Linked DNA regions of Homo sapiens: regions 2 and 3 are each linked to region 1. Evidence: fine-mapped expression QTL. A gene starts in region 1. Each other region holds a variant in brackets. All regions are shown on one strand. Distances are from middle to middle.

The links.
Region 2: its variant is fine-mapped to the expression of PIK3IP1 in whole blood (TOPMed, PIP above 0.99).
Region 3: its variant is fine-mapped to the expression of PIK3IP1 in whole blood (TOPMed, PIP above 0.99).

Annotation. Positions count from the first base shown.
Region 1 is chr22:31,288,591-31,296,771 of GRCh38, forward strand. PIK3IP1 (phosphoinositide-3-kinase interacting protein 1) reads right to left here and starts at 3,898. Exons shown (of 6, transcript NM_052880.5): 1 at 3,685-3,898; 2 at 2,590-2,706; 3 at 2,375-2,494; 4 at 909-1,109; 5 at 725-803. The coding sequence starts at 3,754. It overlaps LOC105372997 (a long non-coding RNA gene), which reads right to left. Exons shown (of 4, transcript XR_001755493.3): 2 at 7,351-7,407; 3 at 5,140-5,231; 4 at 4,354-4,562. RefSeq lists enhancers at 694-743, 1,891-2,090, 3,231-3,280, 6,901-6,950 and silencers at 2,141-2,370, 2,551-2,670.
Region 2 is chr22:31,471,560-31,479,740 of GRCh38, forward strand. EIF4ENIF1 (eukaryotic translation initiation factor 4E nuclear import factor 1) reads right to left here. Exons shown (of 19, transcript NM_019843.4): 3 at 285-358. It also overlaps the pseudogene RNU6-28P. Among named protein-coding and RNA genes, the nearest start is that of EIF4ENIF1, 14 kb to the right of the region's middle. The variant C/G (reference allele first, on the strand shown) is at 4,904.
Region 3 is chr22:31,571,189-31,579,369 of GRCh38, forward strand. SFI1 (SFI1 centrin binding protein) reads left to right here. Exons shown (of 33, transcript NM_001007467.3): 9 at 1,870-2,026; 10 at 4,043-4,204; 11 at 7,194-7,264. Among named protein-coding and RNA genes, the nearest start is that of MIR7109, 46 kb to the right of the region's middle. The variant A/G (reference allele first, on the strand shown) is at 4,464.

The DNA.
Region 1 (8,181 bases):
CTGTAAAGATGAATGCCAGTCTGGCTTACCATCATGCACCAGTCACTGACGGACATCTCGTGGGACCTTTCAAAATAAGCATTCTTCTCCTGCTGTCCCAGCCACAGGTCATGTCCTTGAGTTTCACAAGTAGCCTCTTTGGCTTTCTCACACGTGGTGAAGAGTGGCAAACAGACTTTCTGTTCTCCAACTCACTTTTTTCTTCCCTAGCAGAGGAGATCCCACTGCTTATAGCTCAGGAAATTTAAGCCTCAACTGCAACAGTGGCTGGAAACCTTTTCTAGTAGCAGAATTTTATAACTCACAGAAAGAATTTGGTCTTAAGGTCCCTGCAATCAGTGTCAAGCCTGATTTCTGCAGTGCCACTCACTTCAATGCCAGGCATGTGGGATCAGACAGCAGGGAATTTGCTATCAAAAGAGCTGGGTCTGAATCCAGGTTCTGCCACTCCTAGGCTATGTGACTTTGAGCAAGTCTCTGACAGAGGCTTCTTCATTTGTAAAATGCGGAACAAGAACATCCCTCACAAGGCTTTTAAGTGAGGTGTAAAGGCACCAAAGGAAAGGGTTTGTCCAAGGTCAGCAGATAAAGACTAGGACCAAGTCTCTACATCTTGAGCTGATTTTCAACATCTTGCTTCCTTTTGGGTAAGAAAGCCACAAAGTTTGACTTTGTGTACCTTCCTCCCCTCCTCCTAAGAGGGCCCAGAAGAGAAGCTACTGACCTCTTGTAGGAGTAGCCCAAGATGATGCCAGCTCCGATGGCAATGATGATCACCATCATGGTAATGCCCAGCACGTAGCCTGCCAAGGATAGGACACAAGGTCCCATTAGCCACACCCTAGACAATCAGCAAATGACATCTCTTGATGAATCCCAACGAGGGCAGGGGTGGGGGACCGTCATACCCAGAGTTCCCAGGTCCTTTTTCTCCTTGGAGTTCATCCGCACCCGCTGGCTGATCCCAATCACTGGCTGCACAGCTGCCGCCTCACTCCGAGCGGGCAGGGCGTTGGCAGGAGCGAACACCTGCACCTCATCTGCACCTGGCCCTTCAGACGCTTCCTGGATTTCTGTCGTGAAGGCTGGCAGGGCCTGGGAGGTGGTCTCTGGAGATGAGGTGGGAAACAGCTCTCATCAGGGACTGCCCTGAGTGAATTCCACAGCTGAACCTGGCCTGAGTGTTAGGGTAGATGAAGGTGGGTCACCTAAGAATTTCCCCCCACACACAACCCAAAGTCAAATTCTGCCCCAGAGGTAAGATCAGGCCTGAGAGGGCTGAACCATCTCAGGGACAAGGCAAATGAGAGAGGAAGGCCGTAGGGAAGGGCTTCTCTCCTACCTCCCACGTCTTTATCTGTCCAAATCCTTGCTATTTCCCAAGGCCCCTCTCGGTTGCGTTCTTCTGCAGGGGATTCCCCCCACTTCTACTTCAGGAAACAACCCATGCTTCCTTTGAGCAGCTCACATCTAAGCGTACGCTCTGTGCCAGTCCTTAGGTAAAATGTTTTACTTTGTGCCGGGAGCGGTGGCTCACGCCTGTAATCCCAGCACTTTGGGAGGCCAGACGGTCGGATCACCTGAGGTCAGGAGTTAGAGAGCAGCCCGGCCAACATGGTGAAACCCCGTCTCTACTAAAAATACAAAAATTAGCTGGGCGTGGTGGTGCACGCCTGTTATCCCAGCTACTCAAGCGGCTGAGGCAGGAGAATCACTGTAACGCGGAAGGCGGAAGTTGCAGTGAGCCGAAATTGCGCCACTGCACTCCAGCCTGGGTGACAGAACGAGACTCCGTCTCAAAAAATAAAAAATAAAAAATAAATGCTTTATTTTGATTATCCCATTTAAACCTAGAAAACTCTCTTGCTGCTTTGGGAGCAAAAAGCCTGCGCTCTGGAATCTAAGAAACGTGAATTCAAATCTGTCCCCTGCCATTGCCTTTGGTAAATCGCTTAACTTCTCTGAAGCTCAGATGCCTCAAACGACTTCTTCCCGCGGTGTGTGTCAGGGGAGGTTGGGGAGCTGGGGTTGTGAGCAGTGTGGGTCTAGCACACTGCAGACGCTCCGCAAACGGTCAATAAACGCTGAGGGGCCAAAAGCCACTCCTCAGGACGCGCGGCGGAGAGACCTAGCCTCACCCCAGCCTCGCCCCGCGCAGTTGTTTACAAGCGCTCGCGGCGGATGAGCTCATACGAGTGGCGGCGGCGGCCAATAGGCTTTGAGCCCCGCGGCCTGGAGACAGCCCTGGCCAATCGGACGGCGCGGAGGCGGAGCGGGGCCGGCCGGCATCGCGCGGCCGCACGTGCGCCACGAGTGTCTCAGCCGCTTCCTGTCAGCGCCAGGAGCGGGGATTCCCGGGGTCCCGGGCAGGTACCTGGACAGCGCAGGTCCTCGCAAGGCCGTTTCTCAGGGACGCCGGCCTCGCCACTGACGTAGCACCAGGGCCCGCGCGGGTCCTCGTCCGGGTTTCGGCAGTAACTGTGATTGCCGGCCCCTAAGAGAGGAGAGAAGGAAATGTGTGCCGGGGCTGGCACCGGGAACGCGGCCGCCGCCCGCCAGCCCCGGGGCCGTCCCCCGGAGGACACTTACCCGACACGGGGGCCGAGGCCAGCCCGCTCTGCGCGTCCAGCCAGTTGAGGCAGCGGAGGCCCGGCGCGGGGGAGGTCTGGTCCTCCCGGTACAGGTGGCCGTTGTCCCAGAAACAGCCTGTGAGGAAAAGAAGCCCCCGGACACAGAATAGCGGGCAGCGAACGGAAGACGCCCAGCGTGGCGGACAGGGGAGCCGGGACCACCCGGGCTGAACCTCAGCCTGGTTAGGGGACCCCGGGCCCTGCTGGGCCTCCCTCTCCTCTCGTGGCAACACCCCCACGCCCCACGCACCCCCCCCCCCCAACTCCACGCACACCTCAGGGTGTGAAGCCCCCAGCCTGTGCCTGTCCCCCAGTCAACGCTCAGAGACTGTTAGGTTTTATTTATTTTTGAAACCTGGAAAGCGCTGCAGAAGTGCAAAGCGTTGTTACTCTTGAACTTGTGACCACTTTGGAGGAGGAGATGGAGAGGAGGAGGCCTGGCTTAGGGTCCCTTTGAGGAGCTGGGAGTTTTGGGACGGGGGGCGCCCAGACGTGACATTTGTCCCTGTGTTGTAATGGCCACGTTACATAAACTCCGGTGTTTCCTCCTTCACGGATACGGCCACCTTCTGCCCGTTTAAAAGGCAAATACTCCCTCCCAGGAGAATTCTCCAGGAGCCTTGACTCCGTCAGGCAAAAGATTCAAGACAGCCTCAAACGGAGGAAACCGGCCTCATCGCTGACTGGATGAGACTCCAAGCTCCCACTCCCCTCTGCAGGAGAACCACAGAAGGAGGCTGGGGAAGGAGGACCACACCATGCAAAGGGCTTAGAAAGAACAGGACTTGGGGAGTAGGGGAGATGAACCCCCAAGCTCCATCCACTCATGAGCAAGGAAAGGCAGAGAGAAAGTGGCTTCTTGCCTTTGTTCTTAATGGCAAAGATGGAGCTGCAAGCCCCTGACAAGGAAAGGAGGGGTGGAAAAGCTTTCACGGGACAACAGAAACCGGCTAAACGCTTCGTTTCCTGTCATCCTGGCCCTGTTTGGGAAATAGGGGGCTTTACCCCTTCTGTTTCATGAAGTTGCTGCGGAAAGGAAAGATTGTAATCTCACCTCCAGATCCATAGGCTTCTGCTAGGAGCATGTTGCTGACGAGGAATGCTTGTACCCAGGCCAACAGCATCCTTGCCTCCTTCGTCTTGCAGGTGATTGAACGACCAGTGTTTAACCGAGGCCCCCTTGGCGGCGGCTCTGCCTCCCAGTCCCAGCCTTGCAGTCAGACCTGCCCTTGTTATGCTGTTCTGGTAAACAGCCTCTCTTTAGAACTGGGAGCTTCCCAGCTAGCTTGCTGCAGCGCGAGCTGTTTTTCAGCTGAAAGGCGCCCCCTGGGTCCTAAGCCTCCTAGGTCATGCAAAATCTAACTGAGCCAAGAAAGGAACTCAGCCAAGAGATATGCAGGTTGTGCTTAGCAGCCGATCAGTTTGAGACCTGCGAGGCCGCATCCCCAGGGTTTTTCATCTCTTCTGTTTCCATTTGTGTGAGTACAGAAAAAATAATTCTATCAAGGGGCATCATGGGATGTGGGAAATTATAAGCACTAAAACACAGAACAACTTAGGGAGCTATGCACCCAGGAGGAATTCATGACCACATAGGGGGGAAAAAATAAGAGTTTCTGGTGGGGAGTGGAGTAATAGTTTTTTTTTTTTTCTTTTCTTTTCTTTTTGAGACAGAGTTTCACACTGTCGCCCGGGCTGGAGTGCAATGGCACAATCTCGGCTCACTGCAACCACCTGCCGGGTTCTCGCAATTCTGCCTCAGTCTCCGGAGTAGCTGGATTTTTTTTTTCCCTCACTCTATAGGAAATCCATTTGCTGTAATTTATATCCATCATTAAATCTCACCATATCCATTTGACTTAGGCCTTTTGGAGTTAGGCAGAAGGGCCCTTCTTCCTGTTTGGCTGACAGCTCCCAGGCAGCCTCAGTAAACTGAGAGAGAGAGCAGAGTGATTCGTCAAGACTACCTTGTGACAGGGGCACACCACCACAACCCAGCTAATTTTTTGTATTTTTAATAGAGACGGGGGTTTCACTGTGTTGGCCAGACTGGTCTTGAACTCCTGACCTCGTAATCCACCTGCCTCGGCCTCCCAAAGTGTTGGAATTACAGGTGTGAGCCACCGCGTTCGGCCGAGTAACACTTTATACCCATCCTTGAAAAAGAAAAAGGGCCTTTATGAACACTGACACTTAAAAAAAAAAAAAAAAAAAAAAAAAAAAAAAAACAGTGTAACTTGGCCAGGGTCAAATCTGTCACATTGCTTTTTCTTACATTTGAGGTTTTTTGGGGTGTTGTATATAGTAGGACTATAGAAGGAGTATCTTTAGTTGAAAACACATGTTATGCAAACATGGAAAAATTTGCTCAGCTACATTGTAATAGTCTACCCTTTCTGCCAGCCCTAAATTGTATAGAGGAATTTAAGTAAAATGTTTGCTTTTTTTTTTTTCCCTCACCCTATAGGAAATCCATTTGCTGTAATTTATATCCATCATTAAATCTCACCATATCCATTTGACTGAGGCCTTTTGGAGTAGGCAGAAGGGCCCTTCTTCCTGTTTGGCTGACAGCTCAAGTTCCCAGGCAGCCTCAGTAAACTGAGAGATAGAGCAGAGTGATTCGTCAAGACTACCTTGTGACTCAGTCAGATCCCAAAATAGAAATGGGGAAACTCTGTTTCAATCTTGCAGGCTGTAATTTAAGGAGGAAAACAACTAATTTTTTTTTGGGTGGGGGGGACAGAGTCTCTGTCTCCCAGGCTGGAGTGCAGTGGCACCATCTCGGCTTACTGCAACCTCCACCTCCCAGGTTCAAGCAATTCTCCTGCCTCAGCCTCCCAAGTAGCTGGGATTAAAGGTGTGCGCCACCACGCCTGGCTAAATTTTTTTTTGTATTTTTTTAGTAGAGATGGGGTTTCACCATGTTGGCCAGGCTGGTCTCAAACTCCTGACCTCAGGTGATCCACCCACCTTGGCCTCCCAAAGTTCTGGGATTACAGGTGTGAGCCACCATGCCTGGCCACTTTACTAAATAAATTTTAAAAGCTTTATCAGGGAAGAAAACTAGTGTCAATTCAACTAATCTGAGGTGAATCTGAATTCACTACACTCATAGAAAGGATAGAGAGATACATTTAATTCACTCTTTAAAATAGTTTACTGATAATGTTTGATCCCTTTCGTCCATTTAATAAGATAGATTGCTTTGTTTTTGCAATCACTCTCCTATCTCCCCACCCAAGCTTCTGATCCTCTGACTCTTGACTTGGTCTACCCTGTGAATTACACCCTAGAGTCTGTAAATTTATTCACACATATTCATACACAGATACGGTAGCATTTTAAAATTTGGCCAGGTATAGTGGCTCACACTTGTAAATCCCAGCACTTGGGAGGCCAAGGTGGGAGGATGAGCCCAGGAGTTTGAGACCAGCCTGGGCAACATAATAAGACCCTCATCTCTACAAAAAAAAAAAAATAGGTAGGTGTGGTGGCACTCATCTGTAGTCCCACCTACTGAGGTGGGAGGATCATTTGAGTTCAGGAGTTGGAGGCTGCAGTGACCTGTGATCATGCCACTGCACTCCAGCTTGGGCAACAAAGAGAGACCCTGTCTTAAAAAAAAAATTTATTTTTTTTGAGACAGAGTCTTGCTCTGTTGCCCAGGCTGGAATGCAGTGGCGCCATCTCGGCTCGCTGCAAGCTCCGCCTCCTGGGTTCACGCCATTCTGCCTCAGCCTCCCGAGTAGCTGGGACTACAGGCGCCCGCCACCACGCCCGGCTAATTTTTTGTATTTTGTTTAGTAGAGACGGGGTTTCACTGTGTTAGCCAGGATGGTCTCGATCTCCTGACCTCGTAATCCGCCTGTCTTGGCCTCCTAAGGTGCTGGGATTATAGGTGTGAGCCACTGCGCCTGGCCAAAATTTTTTTTTAATTTAACAATTCCAATATAATAGGGATTTTTAAATTTTATTAATTTTACAAATATTTTTGAGAATCTGCTACATGCTAAATATAGTTGTAGATACTGGGAATACATCTGTGAACAAAATATTTGAAATCTCTGCCCTCATGAAGCTTATATTCTAATTGGGAGAGACATGATAAACATGTAAAATATTAGGTAATCTTAAGCGTTATGCGAAAAAAAGTGAAGCAGAGTAAGGGAGAGAGTAACAGGGTGATATTCCACTTGCCAAAGAAAGCATATACTATTTTCAGGGAAGTAGTAGGATATTTCTATAGCAAAAAGCTGAAGGGGAAGGGCTCTTTGCACAATTTTTGGTGGGAGGGGTCCTATGTTTACTCTTACAGTGCAGCAGGAGACATATGATGTGCATTTTGTTTCATTACATAAAATACAGGCTTGAGGAAATGAGAGTAGTTTTAAATTTCAGAACAGCAGAAGGTTCTTTGAAGTTGGTCACTCAGCACGTAATGTATTGCCTTTGTATGCAGCGAGGGTTCATTTATTGATATCTGATGAAATGCTCCTCCTTAGATTTTGAAGGGCTACTTTTGCTGGATTGTAATACTTTTCCCTCTGATTACGGTAGAGACAGGCTATAACAGGCCAGCACTTGTACTAGTTTCAGATTATCTACCATGCCTATGTAGGGATGCTAGTATTTCTACCTCAGAAGCCCAAGGCTTCTTTACCTGTTGCTGTTGTCATCTAATTTTCCTATTTAAAAAATACTATTTTCCCTAACTTACCTTGATACTCAGCAAAACCATATTTTGTGTCATGTGTCTTATCAGGAACAGCACTGCCTAGAAAAGATACAAAGCCAGAAGATTTTTTTCAGCTTAGTCATGTCTATTTTTTCTCCCCTGTAACTAAGACATTTATCAGCATGATTGATTGGATTTTTTTAGGGGGCGAGGGAATGAAGGACTTGATTCTCAGTCCTTCAGAGATGTACTCTAACAGGTTCAGTACCTTCCTTCCTCAAGGCAATCAGATTTGGTTTAGAAATGTGCCTCTTGTCTTTTTCTGATGATCCAGATTTGAACTTTGCTCCATTTATTGGGGCAAGATGGCCATATTTTATGGCCTGTAGTTAGCGCAGACTTCAGATTTCTTCTGAAAATATCACGGCAATAATAATGTGATACAGTGCTACTCAAATACTTAAATTTTGAGTTGTTTATATCCTTGAAGACAACATTGTGAAACATAATACTCATATCCTCAGTTTCGTATTAGATGATTACTAATCCAGAGACAAAGCTGTGCGATGAAATCAGGAAATATTCTCCAGAGTGTTTCCCAAGAAGGATGGGCACTTCATTTTGTTAACAGGATATGTTAGTGAGTGAACTCTAATAAGGAAGTTATAAAGCTGTTAAAAGGCTTAAGAATCCTTTTTTGTCAGCAAAAGAGGGCCAAAGTGTTGGTAAAAATCTTTGGAATAAGACCTAATGAGTTGGCTCCAGCAATTCACTTTATATGATGTGCTGTAGAAGTAGCTACTGAAATTGTGCTCAATATTTTGGTGTATAATTACAAACTGAGCAGGAATGGTTTTATGCAGCTTGTTAGGG
Region 2 (8,181 bases), 180 kb after region 1:
TGCCTTGGCCTCCCAAAGTGCTGGGATTACAGGCATAAGCCACCATGCCCTGTCGGGTTCAAGTCTTAATTCTGCTTTCTGACTATGTGACTCTGACCAGGTCATCTTTTAATTTTAGTTTCATTCCTAGGTAGTTGAAACCCATCTTATTACCTCTCGAAATCCCTCTTTCACTTATAATTCTACCAGAAAACTTCAAAACAATACAATTCTTAATTTACCAAGTTTGGTATAACAAAAAGTTATTGACTAGAAGTAGTTAAGGACTAGAATGACACACATACCTGTCATATTTTTCAGAAAGGCATGAAGGCCTCTGTTTGGAATGGGGGAGTTCTTTTATATCCAAGAGTTCTTCCTAAAAAGAGAAGTCAAATAGTCATTTTGAATTACATTTCTTAGGCCACACACTTTAAACTTCTGTTCTGAATAATTCTAAGTGTCCATCTTAAACACTTCACACAATTCTTATTTACATCTTGCCTTATTTCAGAAAGGACTGGAGTACATTGAGGTTCTCACAAGCTCAAGCAGAATAATCCAGTAACTTAAAAGTGATCAGTTTCTGGCTAAAACAATCTCTCATAATTGCTATTGAATAACATTTCGTAACACTGAAAGCTCATCAAGGCAAGGAAACTTTAGTGTTAGATAAAACCTCTGCCTAATCTTACCAATTTTCAATGCATTAGATGACAACTTACAAGGGGATTTTTTTTTTTTTTTTTACATGGAATCTCACTCTGTAGCCCAGGATGAAGTGCAGTGGCACAATCTTGGCCCACTACAACCTCCACCTCCTGGGTTCAAGCAATTCTCTTGCTTCAGTCTCCCAAGTGGCTGGAATTACAGGCACACGCCACCATGCCTGGCTAATTTTTGTATTTTTAGTAGAGACGGGGTTTTGCCATGTTGGCCGGGCTGGTCTCAAACCCCTGACCTCAGGCGATCTGCCCGCCTCGGCCTCCCAAAGTGCTGGGATTACAGGTGTGAGCAACCGGGCCGGGGGGCGATAGTTTTTTTTAAATGTAATGTTGCAAGACTGAAAAAACACAAAAAACATCCATATACTATGTACCTATTAACATTTCTCCCTATTTATCATTTACTTTTTTGCAGAATTTTAAAAAAATTGATACAGACATTTGTATACACTTATGGGGTATATGTGATATTTTGTTACATGTATAAACTGTGTAATGATCAAGTCAGGATATCTCGGGTGTCAATTACCTCAAGTATTTATCCTTCCTATGTTTTGGAGACATTTAAAGTCCTCCCTTCTAGCTGTTTTGAAATATACAATACACTTGTTAACCACAGCCACTCTGCTCTGCTATCAAACATTAGAATTTACTCCTTCAACTGCATGTTTGTATCCATATAACCAACCTCTTTGTATTCTGCCATCCCACCCACACACCTTTCCCAGACTCTGGTATCTATCATTCTATTCTCTATCTCCACGAAGCCAAGTTTTTTTGGCTTCCACATATGAGCGAGCTTTTTTTTTTTTTTTTTGACTAGAGAGTAAATTGCATAAGTCATGATGCCTTACTCCTAAATACTGCAGTGCCTATTTCCTAAGAATGAAGATATTCCTTTACAGCCTGTTATCCAGCTCCATGAGAGAATTTAGCCCTACAGAAAATGACCTGAGTGAACTATTTTCCCATTCTCTCAAGGATGTACTTAGCTGGTATGCACAGGAGAGAGGCTAATCCCTCACATATAACGGATGCCTCAGGGCATGAAGACTTCTGCAGACCCAAGTTGAGAAGAACTGCCAGTTTTTTTTATAACTACAACTATTGATAATACTTTTTTCTAATCTACCTTCCCAATTCCAGTTTTGTAAATTGACCCAGTAATGTCCTTTATATTGATCTTCCCCCTCCAAAACAGGATCCAGTCTAGAATCAGATATTTGATTGTTGTATCTCTTTGGTCTCCCTTAATCTAGAACATTTCTACAACTTTTGTCTCTTATGATAGTGACATTTCTAGAAAATATAGTCCCTTTCTGTAAAAGAACATTATTCATTTTGGGTTGGTCTGATGTTTTCTCATGATAGACTGAGCCTAAATATCCATGGGGCAGAATACTAACTGAAGAGGTGCTGTGTCCTTCACAGACCGTCACTTCTGGAGGCCATGATGTTCATCTGTCCTTTATCTATGGTGCTAATTTGGATCATTTGGTCAAGGTATTCTCTAGTTTCTCTACTATTTAGTTACTGCTTTCCCATTTGCATTTAGCATGCAATCTGTGGGGAGACACTTTAAAATCACCCAAATATCTTGGTCTTCAGTTTTCCACTAAAGTTAGCATCCATTAATGATTCTTGACCAAACCACTCTTCATTTTGCCACTCTAGCCCTCTCTCCACTCTCCATATTTACCAGCCAGCACTTGGCATCATACTGTAAAGGCAAGTCCTCCTTTCCCCTGTTTATATACCTATGTATTATTGGTATGGACTCACAGACTCCTAGTTTTTCCTCTTTTTTTTTTTTTGAGACAGTCTTGCTCTATCGCCCAGGCTGGAGTGCACTGGCGCAATCTTGGCTCACTGCAACCCCTGCCTTCTGGGTTGAAGCACTTCTTCCACCTCAGCCTCCCGAATAGCTGGGACTACAGGCATGCACCACCATGGCTGGCTAATTTTTTTTGTATTTTTAGTAGAGACGGAGTTTCACCACGTTGACCAGACTGCTCTGCAACTCCTGACCTCAAGTGATCTGCCTGTCTCAGCCTCCCAAAGTGCTGGGATTACAGGCGTGAGCCACCGTGCCCGGCTGACTCCTGGTTTTTCTGTTGGTCTATAACTCATTAATGTCCTCAATTATGTGGCGCTCAAACTGTCCCAGATTTTGCCAGTGGGTGCCTCTTCAAACTGGCCCATGTGTCTTTTTCAACATGCCATCTTTTTTTTTTTTTTTTCCTAAAGACTGTCATACGTTCTAGCTTATTTTGTATTCATCCTGTCCCAGCCCTGGAATCAGCTATTTCTGAGAAATCCTAGTTTCTTTAAGTGAGGAATTGCATAAAACACCAAGGTCTGGGAACTGGGTATCCTCATTTGCTTGAAGGCCCTTTCAGTAGAGTTAGGAAATATACACACTTACATATACACACATATATATACACACATGCACACTAACACACATATCTACCCATATATACAACAAACTACTGCCTCCTTTTGGTATACTTTGAAATATTTTTTATAATAAAGTTAAAAAGCAATTCCGAAACTTTCAGCACCAGTAAAATGCTGCAACTGCCTTGCAAAAAAGCACATACCACTATGCCATGACTTTGGCAACACTCCCATCCCAGGCCTTGTAGTAGGAGAATGTGCACTGCTTCTCAGATCACTGATTCAACATCTTGGGGTGAGGATGGAGGGACAGATTTGCTCAATCAGCCCACAAGAATCACTGGGTATAGCATACCATGAATTCTCTAGTGTTTACAGAAAACTGAAGCATCTAAATGTTTTCTTCAGGACAAGATGCCGCCTTAGGACTATATGATACTTCAGTTTTAAGACCAGGATATCAATCAGGCATTTGCATTTATTTAGGATTTATTTATCAATTACCTGTCTTATAACTGGATAGAAATACGAATAAAAATTTGTAAGACTGAGATAAACACAGTTCCAAATACAAAGACATACCTAAAGGCTGTTCAAAATTCTGAAAAAAAACTGTCAAAGAACATACAACCTATAAATCACCAGTAAAGATAGGAGTCAGCCAGGTCCAGTGGCTCACATCTGTACTCCCAGAACTTTGGGAGGCTGAAGCGGGAAGACTGCTTGAGTCCAGGAGTTCAAGATCAGCCTGGGCAATATAAGGAGACACCTGTCTCTACAAAAAATATTTTAAAATTCATCGAGTGGGCCGGGCACAGTGGCTCACGCCTGTAATCCCAGCACTATAGGAGGCTGAGGCAGGCAGATCACTTGAGGCCAGGAGTTTGAGACCAGCCTGGCCAACATGGTGAAACCCTGTCTCTACTAAAAATATAAAACTTAGCCAGGTGTGGTAGCGGACGCCTGTAATCCCAGCTACCTGTAGGGAGGCTGAGGTTGCAGTGATCTGAGTTCGCGCCACTGCACTCCAGCCTGGGTGACAGAGCGAGACTCCGTTTAAAAAAAAAAAAAAAAAAAATTCACCAAGTGTGGTCCCCGCTACTCAGGAGGCTGCGGTGGGAGGGTCACTTGAGGTCAAGGCTGCAGCGATCGCACCACTGCTCTCCATCCTGGGTGACAGAGACCCTGTCTCAAAAAAAGAAAAAAACAAAACACACCACGGGAGACTCCAGAGAAATCTTCAGGGCAAACATGGTGTCAGATCTGTAGGGTTAGCACAACTTTGGGGCTGGGGGGAGGGGTTCAGGGAGGATGGAGCAATAGTAATTATGAAAATATCAGATATTACTGTAACACAGAAATCCTAAGGACAAGAGGGCTTAAAATTTTTCTAGTAGAAACAGGAAGGACCTTGCAATATAGGAAATACTTATACATAATGCTACAGGAAAAACCACTGCAAAGCAATTTTTTACTCTTAAAAGTAACTAAAGATTATCACATATCCCCTTACTACCCCATGCAGATACTAAGAACCCTAATGTGCTATTCAATCAAAGACAATCTTTCACGCTTAAATGTGTAAATTCTTAATGTAGGGAAGTTTCTAAGTGGTGTTTTGTTTGAAACTTTTAACTCCAAAGGTAACAGGGATCCCAATAGGTGTTCTCAATTACCACTACAGCTGTTTGCTGAACTCTATAATGATTTTACCTATTTATTTAGGAGTCACCTGGGAAAGGTTAATACTTTAACACAACCACAAAACATCCAGAAAAGCCTAATTTTGGTCCTATTGA[C/G]GAGGAATCAAAAAATACTTTAACAGAAGTAACAGTCTTAAAAAAAGGAAAATAGGAGGCTAAAGAGAGAGGACAACTAAACATAATATGGTATCCTGGATAGAATCCTTGAACAGAAAAAGGATATTAGTTTAAAAATAGGAAAATATGGGCTGGGCACGGTGGCTCACACATGTAATCACAGCACTTTGGGAGGCCAAGGCGGGTGGATCACTTAAGATCAGGAGTTCAAGACCAGCCTGGCACGCCTGTAATCCCAGCTACTTGGGAGACTCAGGCAGGAGAATTGCCTGAGCCTGGGAGGCAGAGGTTGCAGTGAGCTAAGATCACACCACTGCACTCCAGCCTGGACAACAGAGTAAGATTCTGTGTCAAACAAACAAAAAAATTAGCCAGGTGTGGGGGTGCACACCTGTAGCCCCAGCTACTTGGGAGGCTGAGGTATGAGAATTGCGAACCTGGGAGGCAGAGGTTGCAGTGAGCCAAGACTGCACCCTTTTTGAGGGAGACCCTGTCTCAAAAAAAAAAAAAAAAAAAGGCAGGGCATGGTGGCATGCCTATTGTCCAGGCGACTTGGTTGAGCCCAGGAGATCCAGGCCGCAATGAGCTGTAATTGTACCACCGCGCTCTAGCCCGAGTGACAGAAAACCTGTCTCAAAAAAAAAAGAGGCCGGACGTATTACTTGAGGTCAGGAGTTCAAGACCAGCATGGCCAACATAGCAAAACCCTGTCTCTACTAAAAATTAAAAAATTAGCTGGGTATGATGGCGCATGCCTGTAATCTCAGCCTCACTTGAGAGGCCGAAGCAGGAGAAATTGGTTGAATTCAGGAGGTGGAAGTTGCAGTAAGCTGAGATTCTCCAGCCTCGGCAACAGAACAAGACCTCTGTCTCCAAAAAAAAAAAAAAAAACAAAAAAAACAAAAAAAGAGAATTTGAAATTGAGAGGTTATTCAAAGTTAATGTTTTGTTCAATATAATCTTTCCTCTTAGAGTTATTGCTCTAATCACAGAGTGATAAACACCAACTACTCTCAGTTAAGAAGAGTTAACAAAATTCTCATTTTCACTTCCGTATTCCAGTTTTCGTTGTTGACTTTACATGCTTAGCATACATAGGTGTGATGCTTAAGTGAACAGATGTACAAACTTCACAGGCCTGTAAGAGCAGAAGGCAGAGTAGCAAGCTAGTTACACACTGACATTAACCACACCAGCAACATTATTTGTGCCAGGGCGCACTTTTGACCAAATACAATGGCTAAAACATAGCTCACCTGTCCATAGAGGATAAAGAGCCATTTTCTTCACTGAGAAATGGGCTTAGAAACAAGACAACTCTTGGGTTGTAAAAGTGGCAGGGAGTCACTGTAAACATCTAGGTAAACAGTATTTACTGTTCTTGAAAAGTAAGACTTCTTAAATCAGTTCCATGGTGTCAAGGAGTGTAAGACCTCCCATTTGAAACCATATGGAAAATGATGCATTTGTGCAATTTCTGCAGTGAATGTTCACACCTTCAAAAGATTTCCAATGAATGCCCAAGAGGTTAAAAATTATTGCTTCCAACTGAGCATGTTTCTCAAAATATGGCCCAAGGTCCACGTGGACATTTAGGGAAAAATGAGAGAAAACTTCCTCACTGTTTACAGCACTAAATGTGTTACCTTCCAGCATGATCCTAAGATGCTTAAGGTGGTATCCCAGCACAAGAAGATCCCCTACTTAAGTGGGGAAGAGAGAAACCATGAGCTAAGTCAATACAGTTTGGGCCAGGCATGCTGGCTGACACCTGTAATCTCAAAACATTGGGAGGCCGAGACCAGCTATCACTTGAGTCAGGAGTTCATGAGCAGCCTGGCCAACATGGTGAAACCACGTCTCTACTAAAAATAAAAAAACTAGCTGGGCCTGGTGGTGGACACCTGAAATCCCAGGTACTATTCAGGAGGCTGAGGCACAAGAACTGCCTGAACCCAGGAGACAGAGGTTGTAGTGAGCCGAGATCATGCCACAGCACTACAGCATGGGTGACAGAGCAAGACTCTGTCTCAAAAAAAAAAAAAAAAAAAATGCTGAGTGCAGTGGCTCACACCTGTAATCCCAGCACTTTGGGAGGCCAAGGCGGGCGGATCACGAGGTCACGAGATCGAGACCATCCTGGCTAACACAGTGAAACCCTGTCTCTACTGAAAATACAAAAAAATGGCCGGGCACAGTGGCTCAAGCCTGTAATCCCAGCACTTTGGGAGGCTGAGGCGGGCGGATCATGAGGTCAGGAGATCGAGACCATCCTGGCTAACATGGTGAAACCCCGTCTCTATCAAAAATACAAAAAAATTAGCCGGGCGTGGTGGCAGGTGCCTGTAGTCCCAGCTACTCGGGAGGCTGAGGCAGGAGAATAGCGTGAACCCGGGAGGCGGAGCTTGCAGTGAGCTGAGATCGCACCACTGCACCCCAGCCTGGGTGACACAGAGAGACTGTTTCAAAAAAAAAAAAAAAAAAAGTTTGCTCTCTTTACAACTGTCCACATAATATATCCTGTGTGCCCAGTTTAGTGCCACACATAGACAGATGACTCTTGTCCCCACCCCTACAGCTCTTCCAGTCTCTCGAAAGAAATTTTTTTTTTTTTTTGGAGATGGAATCTCACTCTGTCACCAAGGCGATCTCAGCTCACTGCAACCTCTGCCTCCAGCGTTCAAGCAATTCTGCTGCCTCAGCCTCCTGAGTAGGTGGGATTACAGGCTCATGCCGCCATGCCCGGCTAATGTTTTTCTTGTATTTTAGTAGAGATGCGGTTTCATCATGTTGGCCAGGCTGCCTGAGCTCAGGTAATCCGTTTGCCTCGGCCTCCCAAAGTGTTAGGATTACGGGTGTGAGCCACCATGCCTGGACAAGAGAAGAGTCTTTTTTTTTTTTAAATATGGAACACTTCATGAATTTGCGTGTCATCCTTGCGCAGGGGCCATGCTAATCTTCTCTGTATTGTTGCAATTTTAGTATATGTGCTGCCGAAGCAAGCATGAAAAGAGTTCTTAAACTTGCCATCTCATCAAGAGCCCTTAACATTATTCGTGGAAATACCCCTTTGGGATATTTTCAAAGAAAACGTTCAACTATGGCTAAAGACAGAATACTTGGGAAGTGGCCACTCTAACTAGGAGTGCTTCCTTCTTATGAGTATTTCAAGAAAGGATGTGATATTACCCTTTTGGAAAGGTGTTTTTTTTTTTTTTTTTTTAATCTATCCTTTTGGAGTTTTTTTTTTGAGACAG
Region 3 (8,181 bases), 280 kb after region 1:
AAAGTATTTTTGTGATGGCAGTCTTTCCCCAACAACTTTTTATTACTGACAAACACCAAATCATAGAAAAGGTGGATACTGTCTGTGTTTCACCTAGTTTAACCGATTGTGGTTTTTTGGTTTGGTTTGGTTTGGTTTTTTTGAGACAGGGTCTCACTCTGTTGCCCAGACTAGAGTGCAGTGGTATGATCACTGCTCACTGCAGCCTCAACCTACCAGGCTCAAGCGATCCTCCCACCTCAGCCTCCCAAGTAGCTGGGACTACAGGTACACACCACCATGCCTGGCTAATTTTTTTTTTTTTTTGGTAGAGACAGAGTTTCGCCATGTTTCCCAGGCTGGGCTCAAACTCCTGAGGTCAAGCAATCCTCCTGCCTTGGGCTCCCAAAGTGCTGAGATTACAGGTGTGAGCCACCCCGCCCCACCAACCCATTGTTAACATCTTGCCACATTTGCTTTCTTTAAGTATATAAATACATTTATTTTGTCTGAGCTGCTCTAAAATTGTAGACACAAAGTTTATCTTAAAGTGTATATCTCCTAAAAAGGATGGTCTCCCACATAACCATAATATCATTATTATATTCCAAGAAATTTAATATTGATATAATATATAACATGCAGTTCATATTAAAACTGTATATTGTTGCTATTTTCATTTCCATAGTCTAATTAAAGGTCACCCATTGCTTTTAGTTGTTACATCTTGAAGATTTTTTTTTTTAGGATAGGAAAAATAATAGCACATTGATATGCTGATTTCAAAAATCTATAGAGAGTGAAAACTGATGATTCGTAAGAGGGGAACTGCCAAGGCAGTAAACTCGGGAAGGTGAGAGATAGCCAGAGCTGGACAGGGTTGGGAGGGGACTGACGTTGGTGGGAGCATGGGCGGTTCATCCAGAGTAGCAGGAAAGAGAGAAGACAGAGCCCGTGGGCAGGTGGGTAGTTAAACATGGTGGACCTTAAGGAAATTTCCTTTTGATTGCTTTTATTTTCTTAGTGAAATGGGAACGATGGTATTCAGTTGAGAGGAGGGAAAGGAGAGGTGCGACAGGCTGAAGAAAAGATATGAAGTCTTTGTCTAAGTCGTCTTCAGATTAGGACATGCATTATCACTGATCTAAGGGTGTGCATTTATAGACCCTTGTAGACCCTTAGCTTCTATATATAGGCATCCCTGGAACTAATCTGCCTGAAAAAGGACTACTTTACAGTAGGCTTCCTCTGACTTTGGAAGAAAAGGCAGACCCTCACTTATCCCAAATCTGAATTAATTATATCACCCCTCGGATTGTTTCTGCTCCTTGTCTGCTTGTTTTTGTTTTTGTTTTGAGTTGGTCGCTCTTGTCGCCCAGGCTGGAGTGCAGTGGTGTGATCTCAGCTCACTGCAACCTCCACGTCCTGGGTTCAAGTGATTCTCCTGCCTCAGCCTCCTGAGTAGCTGGGATTATAGGCACCCACCATCACGCCCAGCTAATTTTTTGTATTTTTAGTAGAGACGGGGTTTTGCCATGTTGGGCAGGCTGGTCTCAAACTCCTAACCTCAGGTGATCTGCCCTCCTCGGCCTCCCAAAGTGCTGGGATTACAGGCGAGAGCCACTGCACCAGCCATCTGCTTTCTGCTTGTTGATTTTATTCTTCTTTTTTTTAATCCAGGAAAAAATTACTTTTGAAAGCAGAATGTCCCTCTTAAAGACCCTTTTACCCCACGGTCCCATAGCTTATCATCCTGCTAGGGGATTGCCACTTCCTTGTTTCTAATTTCAGCCTTTCCAGCGTGTGTGCCTTTCTCTTTTCCCTCTCCACCTGTACTTCACCCTGTTTTCCTGCCTCTCCTTTGACTGTTGCCTCTTCTCTGGTTTTCAGGCTTGGTCACAGTGGCGGGAACAGCTCCTGTATGTCCAGAAGGAGAAACAAAAGGTTGTCTCTGCAGTGAAACATCATCAGCACTGGCAAAAACGGAGATTTCTAAAGGCCTGGCTTGAATACCTGCAAGTCCGCAGAGTGAAGAGACAGCAGAATGGTGAGTAGGAAGCTCCAGGCTCTCGAGATAGAGGATCTGGTCACAGTTTCACTCTCCTGCTGCCAGTGGTACTGTACTAAGAAGTAATATAATGGTGCTACTCCAGAAATTTTGGTAAAAGGAGATTAAGGAGGAAAATACATCATCCTTGAGTCACATTTATTTCTCTTTGGGCTTTTATTTATATATCTGTATCTATATCTATCTAGCTATCTGTAGATAGATTTTTTTTTTTTTTTTGAGATGGAGTTTCGCTCTTGTCACCCAGGCTGGAGTGCAGTGGCGCAATCTCGGCTCACTGCAACCTCCGTCTCCTGGGTTCAGGTGATTCTTCTGCCTCAGCCTCCCTAGTAGTTGGGATCACAGGTGCCCACCACCTCGCCCGGCTAATTTTTGTATTTTTAGTAAAGATGGGGTTTCATAACTTTGGCCAGGCTAGTCTCAAACTCCTGACCTCAGGTGATCCGCCTGCCTCAGCCTCCCAAAGTGCTGGGATTGCAGGCGTGAGCCACTGTTTCCGGCCTCTTCTGTATATTTTTTATCTAAATAGGGTTTTCATTTTGCTATAAGTATTGTAATTATTTTGATTAATATGTTGATAACCTATGGTTTTGTATCTTCCTTTTTTCCACACAGTTAATCAACACTTCCCTACATCTTAAGTATTTGTCGTAAATGTTATTTTTTAACAACTATTCATATTTTATAGGATGGCTTACCTTAATATACTTAGCCATTCTCCTATTAATAGATATTTGGATAGTTTCTGTTTGTCTCCAGTTATGCAAATGCATGTGATTTTGATGTTGAGTTTTTTGGATACTGTTTATATGGTTTTGTTTCCCAATTAGATTCAGAAGTAATAATACATAGAAATGTGAACATTAGTACACTTTTTAACTTAAGTTTATTGAGTTTATACCAAAGTAAGTCAAGCACTGTGCTAGACACTGGGTTAAGGGTCTCTGGCGTTCACCCAAACCTCCCTGCAGAAATCTCTTACGCTGCCAACACTGTCTCTTGGGAGAGTTTGAATATGTTCATTGGAGGATAGTGACCCCAGACCAACAGTCCAGTTGCCCAGTCCTGGAATGTGAAGGCATTAAGCTGTTTAGTATGATAAGCTATAGACTAATGCCTGCCTCCAATTACAGCATTCAAATTCCAGGTCTGATTCCCATCCCCTTCCCAGGCCCTAGCTCATCAGACCATTATCTGACTAGCATTAAAAGGAGATGAAGCTGGCAGCCAGGATCAGGTTGGCTGAAAGCTCAAAAAAGCCTATGCCAGCGTGGCAACTGAATTTTATGTCATTGACTCAATCTCTAAGTCCTATCCAGGAGACATTTGTTTAGAAGCAAAAGTAAAACAGTCCTTTTTGAAAGTAACAGTTTTCATTTCTGTTCATCAGTATCTAACTAGAAGCCTCAGCCCTTTGATGTAACTGATTTTATAGCATCCTCCTCCCTAAAATCACAGACCTTTTCTCTTTCCTTGGAGAGAGGAGATGTAGCTCAGGGATTCCTAATGACCTTTCAAGGTTTAAAAAACTTGTATTTTGGCCGGGCGCGGTGGCTCACGTCTGTAATCCCAGCACTGTGAGAGGCTGAGGCGGGCGGATCACTTGAGGTCAGGAGTTCGAGACCAGCTTGGCTAACATGGTGAAACCCCATCTCTATTAAAAATGCAGAAAAATCAGCCAGGGGTGGTGGCACATGCCTGTAATTCTAGCAACTTGGGAGGCTGAGGCAGGAGAATCGCTGGAACCTGGGAGGCATAGGTTGCAGTGAGCCGAGATCCCGCCACTGCACTCCAGCCTGGGCAACAGAGCGAGACTCCAACTCAAAGAAAAAAAAAAAAAAACTTAGTGCGTGTGTGTGTGTGTGTGTGTGTGTGTGTGTGTGTGTGGCCTTGAACCCCTGCTCTCTGCCAGTAGTGGGGTTCAGCTTGTCTTAAAGATGTTTCCAGCTCATCTAACCTTAGGGGAGTAGCACTTAAGTTATTTCTCTGTTGCAGAGATGGCTGAGCGATTCCATCATGTCACTGTGCTCCAGATATACTTCTGTGACTGGCAGCAGGCCTGGGAGCGGAGGGAGAGCTTGTACGCTCACCATGCCCAGGTGGAGAAACTGGCCAGGAAGATGGCCCTGCGGCGCGCCTTTACTCACTGGAAACACTGTATCCTTTCAGATACTCAGGCTGTCCATTGCCTCAGCCAGGACAGCATGAGCTCAGCAGCATGTGAAACGAAAGTCATGAGATACATGGGAAACAATTGCCAAACGATTCAAAACAGCCTTATCTCTGTTGACAGTCTTAAAATTTTTGTTTAATTGGGATTGTGTATAAAAAGAGTGCTTATATATAGTTTAAAAATAATAAAATGAACAACTATATATCTTATCACCCAACTTTCAAAATAGAACCTTCCTAGCAC[A/G]CCTATTTGCTCCTCCCTGACTGCGTTCTTTTTCTTTTCCCTCAGAGGTAATCCCACTTTCCTGATTCACATTTTTTGGTGTTACAATTTAAGTGCTTTTCTCTACCCACTAGGTGGTGGAAATAGCCACCACTATCTTTTTCTTGGTGATACCATCACCGTGATCATAGTTTCCATTTATTGCGCTTTTACTACGTAGCAGACATTATGCATCATCCTCTTCATCCTCATAGCAACGCTGTGGAGTAGGTGCCACTATTACCATTTTACAGACGAGGAAAGAGATTCAGAGGAGCTGAGTGTATTCTAAAGTCACAGGTCATTGGCAGAGTCAAGATTTTCAAAACCTAGGCCTTTAACTCCTGTGTACATATTCTTTTTTTTTTTTTTTGAGATGGACTCTTGCTCTGTCACCCAGGCTGGAGTGCAGTGGTACAATCTCGGCTCACTGCAATCTCCGCCTCCCAGGTTCAAGCGATTCTCCTGCCTTAGCCTCACGAGTAGCTGGGATTACAGGCATGTGCCACCACGCCTGGCTAATTTTTGTATTTTTAGTAGAGACGGGGTTTCGCCATGTTGGCCAGGCTGGTCTCGAACTCTTGACTTCAGGTGATCCACCCACCTCAGCCTCCCGAAGTGCTGGGATTACAGGCATGAGCCAGCGTACCCAGCCTCTTTTTTTTTTTTGAGACAGAGTCTCGCTCTGTCACCCAGGCTGGATTGCAGTGGTGCCATCTCAGCTTACCGCAACCTCTGCCTCCCGGGTTCAAGTGATTGTCCTGTCTCAGCCTCCTGAGTAGCTGGGATTACAGGCGGCCACCACCATGCCCAGCTAATTTTTGTGCTTTTAGTAGACATGGGGTTTCTCCATGTTGGCCAGGCTGGTCTCGAACTCCTGACCCAAAGTGATCCACTTGCCTCGGCCTCTTAAAGTACTGGGATTACCGGCGTGAGCCACCGCGTCCAGCTCTATGTATAAACTCTTTTTTTTCCCTTTTTTTTTTTGAGATGGAGTTTCGCTCTTGTAGCCCAAGCTGGAGTGCAATGGCCCAATCTTGGCTCACCACAACCTCTGCCTTCCGGGTTCAAGCGATTCTCCGGCCTCAGCCCCACGAGTAGCTGGGATTACAGGCATGCACCACCATGTCCGGCTAATTTTTTTGTATTTTTAGTAGAGACAGGGTTTCTCCATGTTAGTCAGGCTGGTCTCAAACTCCTGACGACCTCAGGTGATCTGCCCGCCTCGGCCTTCCAAAGTGCTGTGATTACAGGCCTGAGCCACCGCACCCAGCCATATTCTTAATCACTACCCCTACCATACTGTGTGCCCAAGTGTGAGAATTTGGACTGCCTAGGATGTTCATCCACACATTTTATTTGTTCATCAAAGTCTTGCTTTGTATAAACTCCTGCTTAAATTCTGGGATATGAGGAAGCTCAGACTAATGATAGTTCATTGTCTAGTGGGGGAAATAGACATGAAAATATGTCTTTAAATATGGCATGATAATTCCTATCATAAAGATTTGTATGAAGTCCTGTGAGAGCGACTGTGGAGATTCAGCCAAGGAGGTAATGTTTGTGCAGAGTCTAAGTCATAGGAGATGAGAAGTTGGGAAGGTTGATGTCTTAGGGGAAGACTGCAGAAGGTTGGAAAAGGCATTTCAGTGAGGAAAAGCATTCAAGAATCCAGTGGGCTGTGGAGGTAGGGATGGTGGGAAGGTAGATGCAGGAACCTCTGGAGGTTTTTTAACTTTTAAAAATTTAGAGACAGGGTCACATGTTGCCCAGGCTGGAGTGCAGTGGCTTTCACAGGCGCAATGGTAGCTCACTACAGTCTTGAACTCCTGGGCTTAAGCAATCCTCCCCCCTCAGCCTACGAAGTAGGTGAAACTACAGGCACACACCATCACACCCGGCTTCAGGGGTTTTTAAGAAGAGAAGAGGCTGGGGGCAGTGGCTCACACCTGTAATCCAAGTGCTTTGGGAGGATCGCTTGAACTCAGGAGTTTGAGGCTACAGTGAACTATGATGGCACCCTTGCCCTACAGCCTGGGTGACAGAGTGAGACCCAGTCTCTTAAAAAAGAAAAGAAGTGCAGTCAGATTTGTGCTTTGGAAAGGATAATTCTGGATTAGCGGAGAGAGGCTAGCACTGGTGGGAGACCAGTTATGGGAGGAGGCTCACTTACCAGTCTACGTAAGGGACGAGTTGGATGAACTGCAGGGTGTTGGGGGTGGGGACAGAAGAGCAGAAGGGGATGGAGAGAGCCAAGAGATTTAGGAAGGGAACAGATGGACTTGGCGACCGATTAGATGAGAGTGGGAGGAGAAAAGGTTTGAAAATAACTCCAAGGTTTTTAGCTCAAATATCTAACTGGATTGTGATGCCAAAACAGAGACTATAGAAAAAGGAGCAGATTCTGCTTTAGATATGGTGATTTCTAAATGTTTACTGAAATTGATAGCAGTTTATCTCAGGTATTTTTTGCGTCTCATCTCATGGGCATTCAAGGGGAGGAATGCAAGACCAGATGTTTGATCAGTAACTGACAGGGTTTCCCTTTGCCCACTGCTTCCCTGGGTCATCAGGAGTAGACAGAGGTGGACCTCAGCCCACCTGGCACGTGTGTTATCCCCGATAGCCACGGCCCTTCAAGGTGGCTTGCTGAGAATGCACTGTGTAGGGGTCAGAACCTTGTTGGGACTGGAGGCCTTCACTTCCTGGCAGACATGCTGCTGTGTGCAGAAGAAGCTGCCCAGTTTGAGATGGCAGAAGAGCACCACAGGCACAGCCAGCTGGTAAGAGCCCTGCATCCTGGCACGGGTCCGCTTGGCAGCCTTGCTTGGGTATCCACTCTTGGGGGACCCTGACCCCTATCACCTTCATTAAATGCAGTCAGCTATGGGTGAGTTTTGGTCATGAAGCCCTCCTTTCATTGTGGGTGTCCTTCTTTTCATTTTGGATTACAGGTGCTAATGTTGTAGGGTCAGAGGGGTATGGAGCTGTAAAGGAACCTCAGAGATTATTTAGTCCTGAGCTTTTTTTACATGGTAAAACCCCTTTTGAGTGGCGGAAGCCTCACCTATAAAATAGGTCAAAGTAGCCATGCTGTGGTTGAAGCACGTCAGGGAGTCCGTCCCTGTTCTACCTGCTACTCTTCCCTTCCCTTGCTACACGAGGTGGTCTTCATATGTTTTCAGGAGCCTCTGGGGCTCCACAAAGCACAGTACGAAAACCCCTAATCCAGTCTGATATCTTCACTTCTGTCTCAGAAAATTGAAGCCTAAGGCATGGGGAAGTATGGGCAAATCAGCTTTGCTTAGCCAATTTGTGAGGCATTATTATTATTTTTTAGAGATGCGGTCTCACTATGTTGTCCAGGCTAGATTCAAACTTCTGGGCTCAAGCAATCCTCCCACCTCAGCCTCCTGAGTAGCTGGGACTATAGGCATGTGCCACCAGGCCCAGTGTTGAGGCATTAGTATTATTATCATTACTATTATTATTAGAGATAGGGTCTCCTCTGTCACCCAGGCTGGAGTGCAGTGTTAAAATCATAGCTTGCTGCAGCCTTGAACTCCTGGACTCAAGTGATCCTTCCACTTCAGCCTCCCAAGCAGCTGGGACCACAGGCACATGCCACCATGCCCAACTAATTTTTTAGATTTTTTTTTTTTTTGAGACAGAGTCTCGCTCTGTCACCCAGCCTGGAGTG